Linked DNA regions of Homo sapiens: region 2 is reported to be linked to region 1. Evidence: microRNA targets listed by miRTarBase, many of them from high-throughput screens and not tested one by one. Region 1 holds a microRNA gene; the other region holds the end of a gene's coding sequence.
The links. The annotated mature microRNA hsa-miR-6795-5p reads UGGGGGGACAGGAUGAGAGGCUGU and lies in region 1 at 1,116-1,139, shown strand. An mRNA with a match to its seed (bases 2 to 7 or 8) in the 3' UTR can be bound and repressed. Matches are read on the target gene's strand: a 7mer-m8 pairs with bases 2 to 8, a 7mer-A1 pairs with bases 2 to 7 and ends in A, and an 8mer does both.

Region 1 (3,073 bases):
CCGAGCTGCTGTGAGCGTTGAAGGCATGTGTGTGTATGTCAGTGATGAGACCTTGCCTGCTGGGGGGATGTGTGACAACCTGATGGAGTGTGGGTGCGATCCTGGGGACTCATTCCACCAAGGATGTTGAATGATCTGTGTGATGGAGGCAGAAGGGGGATGTATGGGGTTACCTCTGTTCCTGTGCCACTCTCCTCTTTGCAGGGGTGCGGCTGGAGCAGCTGTGTCAGGCGGGTGGGCAGTGTGTGGATGAAGACAGCTCCCACTACTGCGTGTGCCCAGAGGGCCGTACTGGTAGCCACTGTGAGCAGGAGGTGGACCCCTGCTTGGCCCAGCCCTGCCAGCATGGGGGGACCTGCCGTGGCTATATGGGGGGCTACATGTGTGAGGTAAGGGGGCGCTCCCCAGGAGAGGGAAGAGGAGGTGGGCATGCTTGGGTGCGTCTGGGCACACATTTCTGTGTGGCTTGGTATGGGTATGTCTCTAGATATGTCTGAGTTTTTGCTTTTGTGACTCTTGGTGTATCTGTGGGTGTCACTCTGGGTAGATCTGGGGTGTTTTTTTATTTGTTTGTTTTTTTGAGACAGGTTCTCACTCTGTCACCCAGACGAGTGCAGTGGCGCGATCTCAGCTCACTGCAACCTTTGCCTCCTGGGTTCAGGTGATTCTTCTGCTTCAGCCTCTCATTATAGCTGGGAGTACAGGCACCCACCACCACGCCCAGCTAATTTTTGTATTTTTCATAGTGACAGGGTTTCACCATGTTGGCCAGGCTGGTCTCGAACTCCTGATCTCAGGTGATCTGCCCACCTCGGCCTCCCAAAGTGCTGGGATTACCTACTGGTAGTGCGCTGAACATCTGTGTGTGTCCTTTTGTGCTGGGGTTCTTTGCGTCTTCATGGGTATGTCCAGGTGGGTCTGTGTCCCACTAAGCTGAGTGGGTCCCTCTCTTACCCCACTGAAGTGTCTTCCTGGCTACAATGGTGATAACTGTGAGGACGACGTGGACGAGTGTGCCTCCCAGCCCTGCCAGCACGGGGGTTCATGCATTGACCTCGTGGCCCGCTATCTCTGCTCCTGTCCCCCAGGAACGCTGGGTATGCCAGGGCCAGGGTTGGGGGGACAGGATGAGAGGCTGTCTTCATTCCCTCTTGACCACCCCTCGTTTCTTCCCCCAGGGGTGCTCTGCGAGATTAATGAGGATGACTGCGGCCCAGGCCCACCGCTGGACTCAGGGCCCCGGTGCCTACACAATGGCACCTGCGTGGACCTGGTGGGTGGTTTCCGCTGCACCTGTCCCCCAGGATACACTGGTTTGCGCTGCGAGGCAGACATCAATGAGTGTCGCTCAGGTGCCTGCCACGCGGCACACACCCGGGACTGCCTGCAGGACCCAGGCGGAGGTTTCCGTTGCCTTTGTCATGCTGGCTTCTCAGGTAAGCGTTGGCGAAGGGGCTGGCCTGGGACCCCGCCTGTCATTCCCCCATTGTGGCTGATCTACATGCTCCCGCTCGCTCAGGTCCTCGCTGTCAGACTGTCCTGTCTCCCTGCGAGTCCCAGCCATGCCAGCATGGAGGCCAGTGCCGTCCTAGCCCGGGTCCTGGGGGTGGGCTGACCTTCACCTGTCACTGTGCCCAGGTAGGTGTGGGTGGCGGCCTTTGGAGGAGGAGTAGGGGCGTGGCCTCTGGAGTAGTAGGGGCGTGGCGTCTAGGAGGAGGATGTGGCTTTAGGGGAGACATCGAAGGGAAGGGAGTTTCTGGAAAATGCTGACATTTCCGCCGGGTGTGGTAGCTCACACCTGTAATCCCAGCACATTGGGAGGCCGAGGCGGGAGGATCACTTGAGGCCAGGAGTTAGAGACCAGCCTGGGCAACATGGTGAAACCCCGTCTCTACTAAAAATATAAAAATTAGCCGGGCGTAGTGGCAGCTGCCTGTAATCCCAGCTACTCGGGAGGCTGAGGCAGGAGAATCACTTGAACCCGGGAGGCGGAGGTTGCAGTGAGCCATCACGCCATTGCACTCCAGCCTGGCGACTGAGTGACACTCCGTCTCAAAAAACAAAGAAACAACCCCCTGCCCCGACATTTCCTGGAGGTTTGAAGGGAAAAGGGTGAGGATGGTGATTGGGGGGCGTGGCCTCCTGGGATGGCAGGGCTTATCTGCCAGGTGGGGTCTCCAGTGTGGAAAGGGGAGCGGTTGGGTGGGACATGGGGAGGTTGAGGGGGTCTCAACCTTCCTTAGTCTTGACCTCTTCTCTTCCCCCTCTCTCCCCTTGACTCTTCTTTTCCCCACTCCTCCATTTCTTCTCCTCCTTCCCTCCACTCCCCACCCTCATTTTTATCCCTCCCTCCCCAAACCCGACCCCCAGCCGTTCTGGGGTCCGCGTTGCGAGCGGGTGGCGCGCTCCTGCCGGGAGCTGCAGTGCCCGGTGGGCGTCCCATGCCAGCAGACGCCCCGCGGGCCGCGCTGCGCCTGCCCCCCAGGGTTGTCGGGACCCTCCTGCCGCAGCTTCCCGGGGTCGCCGCCGGGGGCCAGCAACGCCAGCTGCGCGGCCGCCCCCTGTCTCCACGGGGGCTCCTGCCGCCCCGCGCCGCTCGCGCCCTTCTTCCGCTGCGCTTGCGCGCAGGGCTGGACCGGGCCGCGCTGCGAGGCGCCCGCCGCGGCACCCGAGGTCTCGGAGGAGCCGCGGTGCCCGCGCGCCGCCTGCCAGGCCAAGCGCGGGGACCAGCGCTGCGACCGCGAGTGCAACAGCCCAGGCTGCGGCTGGGACGGCGGCGACTGCTCGCTGAGCGTGGGCGACCCCTGGCGGCAATGCGAGGCGCTGCAGTGCTGGCGCCTCTTCAACAACAGCCGCTGCGACCCCGCCTGCAGCTCGCCCGCCTGCCTCTACGACAACTTCGACTGCCACGCCGGTGGCCGCGAGCGCACTTGCAAGTGAGCCCATCCACCCGATCGATCCGTCTGTCTATGCATCCATCCCAGTCTGTTTGTCCGTGGGCCCTGCCTCTCTTTCCACCTGCCCATCCACTTGCCCCGTCTGTTTCTCTGTGCACTCTATCTGCCCATCGGTG
Region 2 (3,000 bases), not on the chromosome of region 1:
CCCAGGCCAATAATGTGCTCTTCATGCCACAAAGCTGAAAAGCACTCAGGAACCAGGTGCAATCGGCCTAAGGGACCTGTCCAAGGCCACCCAGCCCTTAAGAAGCAAAGAAGGGCTGACCTGTCACTACCCACTGATATCTCAGGACCTGCAGGGGCAGGGTTAAATGCACATTCCCCTCTCACCCACACGGCAGCAAGAGAAAGAGTTAGGGTCCTGGGGGCTGCAATCTGGGCAATGCCTAAGCAGACAGCCTCAGACAATGAAGGGCGAGTCAGGACTCAGTTGTGTCAACTTGGTATATACAACCTCTCCAAGCCTTGATTTCAGCAGAAGCCCACAGAGAAAGCCCTGATGCCTCTGCCTGCCAGTGCCTAAGGGCTGGGGAAATGCCACCTGCCCCAGCTTCATCCAGAAACTGTGGCTGCTCCCTCCCATCTGCGGGGCACCTTGATTAGTCTAAGTGGCCAGCAGACCCCAAGCAGAACCAGGCCAGTGCCTCACACAGAGCAGGCACTAGGATGCCTGTCGACAGCACTCCTTCCCCTCCTTCCCAGGCCCCAAGCCCTTATCGGACACGACTCATTTTAAAGAAAAAATAATATTTATTTGCAATATAAACAAAGTCCCGTTGTTGGTTCGGGATATATATATATATGTATGTGTGTGTATATATATACGTAGGGTCACAAATCTTCCTTCATAAGATCATAAAGCAAAACTGGCCACCTTCTGGCATACCCTCATTTACACAAATCTGGTACATCTTTCTGGGTTTTCTTTTTAAAAATAAAAGAGAGAAAAAGAGAACCATGTACAGCATGGAAGCTTGTTGTCAATTTCTCGACTGTGGCAAGATTTTAATCTGCTGCGCTAAAGAATCCCTGAAAGCCACCCCCGTGAGGTAAGAAGCAGTGGGGCAGAGTTTTTCTGTGGCCTCACTCACATGCTGAGTGCTGCTCCGTCAGGGACCCTGGCCTGACTCCTCTGCCTGCCCCAGGCCCCCATGCAGTCCTGACACCTGGTGGAACTGAGGCTGGAGAAGGAACAAAACTGGAGGAAGATAACGGAATCCGTGGCTTCGTTCTGTGGAGGCAGGGGGAAGTGAACAGAGCCTTACCCCCCTTCTGCTGGTCCATCCTTGCCCCACTTGCCCCCGCCCTAGGGTTGAAATGGGTGCAAGTCTCCTGGCAGTAGAAGGCATGGGCAAGATGAGGGCAGGGCAAGCTTCCAAGGGGACAAGGGGGCTGGGAGTGGCCAGACCAAAGCAACAGCTAGGGAGAAGGAAGAACCTGGAGGTCGGGCTGGGCCCCACCACCTAATGTCTCCCCAGCCACTGGGCCTCCACTCCCAGTTACAACAAGAGAGAGGAAAGGAAGAGAGAGGGAGGGGGGGAGAGAGAAAGAAAGAGAGAGAGAGGGAGAGAGAGAAAGAGAGAGAGGGAGAGGAAGAGAGAGAGACAGACAGACAGACAGAAGTAGTGGCTAAGTATATAAAAGGGCTCAGAGCCCAGGCCTTCTTAGGGGCTGACCCCAGAGGGCTAATGCTACTGCCTGGCAGCCCCCTGCGGCCCACCTCCTGGGGGACAGCGGCAGGGCCCCAGGGTCCCCACCTTCTGCCTCAGGGAGGTCTGCAGGGACCACCAGAGGGATGGATGAGACGGCAGAAAATGCAAAGACCACCATCCAGCCCACCAATCACAACTTGCAGCAGTCATCACAGGCGAATGCAGAGCTAAGTCAGACTGGGCCAAGGGTGGGAGGCGGCACGACTGGGGGTCCCAATACCTGAAGAGCAGTAAGCCACCCCTTCAAGAAGGGCCCGCTGAGGAAACAGAGGCTTCACACATGTGCAAAACGCATTTGGTCAAGGTCAACATGGCGTCTGTCTTTTCCATTAAAAAACAAAAACAAAAACAAACACGATACTTGCTTTTTGAAATTGAACGAAAAACAAAACTGAACATTTCTCTCTCTTGCAGGATCAGGAAAGGGATGAAATACTGGGTTATACAATCCACTGTTGCATGTAGCCTGAAAATAACACTTTTTGTTAAAAAAAAAAAAAAAAAAGAAAAATCAAGAAGAGCTCAAACACTCTTTGTGCTCCAGGGAGCTTGGATTTACCTGCCAAAAGTAAAAAGTAAACTCAGGTCCGTGGATGTGTCTTTAAAAAACAGCCAAACTGGCTGGGCTGTCAGCAGAAAGGAGCGTCCTGGACAGGATGAGGCCCTGGTGGACGCCCAAAGCCACGTGTCCAAGAGCCGAGGCCTCTCCAGCAAGCCCTGCAGTGGGAGACCTTGCCTGCGGGCCCTGCCCCCAAGGATGGTGAGGGGCGCTCCGACACCGATCAGCCTGGGCCTCTGGGCACAGGTGACATCTGGGGGTTCCTCAGGCCAGAGGTGGCGGGCTTGGGCTCTCCCACCTAGCCCTGTGGAGAGCCGAGCAGGGGCCTGGTGCCATGCCCCCCGTGCACCAGGCCTCACGTGGACTCCAGCGTATTGAGTGGGAACAGGTTGTGGTTGGTGGGCGTGGAAAAGTAGAGCTGCTCACTCGACGCGTGGTTGTCGCACGGGCTGCTTAGCCCCAGCGTCCGCTCAAAGTCCAGCAGCTGCCCCATGAAGTTGAAGTTGGGCGAGATGTTGGACTTTTTCCTCTTGACAAAGTCGTAGGCGTCGTTGAGTGACAGGTTCATCTTCTGCATCAGATAGGCCACAGTGACCGTCACTGAGCGGCTGATGCCTGCCAGGCAGTGCACCAGGACACCACACTTCTTGGAGCGGGCTTCGTCTGAAACACATTGGCATGGGTCAGGGAGGTGCCTCCTTCAAGGAGCCTTCCCACATGGGTGGGCAGGTGGGGCTGGGGCACAGAGGGCAGCATGGTGGCTGGCTGGTCTTGCCCGACCCCTGAGGGACCTGGCCAAGCCCAGTGTGGGTAGGGCAGCAACTTGGAATAGAGGTCAACAGCACTGCTGTGGAGAGGGCTCTGCACACTTTAG

Region 2: the mRNA of DUSP7 is a reported target of hsa-miR-6795-5p. Seed matches in the 3' UTR shown: 7mer-m8 at 1,390-1,396.

Annotation. Positions count from the first base shown.
Region 1 is chr19:15,177,388-15,180,460 of GRCh38, reverse strand. MIR6795 (microRNA 6795) reads left to right here and starts at 1,111; the gene lies at 1,111-1,178. It overlaps NOTCH3 (notch receptor 3), which reads left to right. Exons shown (of 33, transcript NM_000435.3): 20 at 205-389; 21 at 965-1,097; 22 at 1,179-1,436; 23 at 1,520-1,638; 24 at 2,371-2,936. RefSeq lists a silencer at 2,647-2,816.
Region 2 is chr3:52,048,334-52,051,333 of GRCh38, forward strand. It overlaps DUSP7 (dual specificity phosphatase 7), which reads right to left. Exons shown (of 3, transcript NM_001947.4): 3 at 586-2,789. The coding sequence ends at 2,482. LOC124906238 (a long non-coding RNA gene) reads left to right here. Exons shown (of 2, transcript XR_007095908.1): 2 at 1-625. Among named protein-coding and RNA genes, the nearest start is that of DUSP7, 6.7 kb to the right of the region's middle.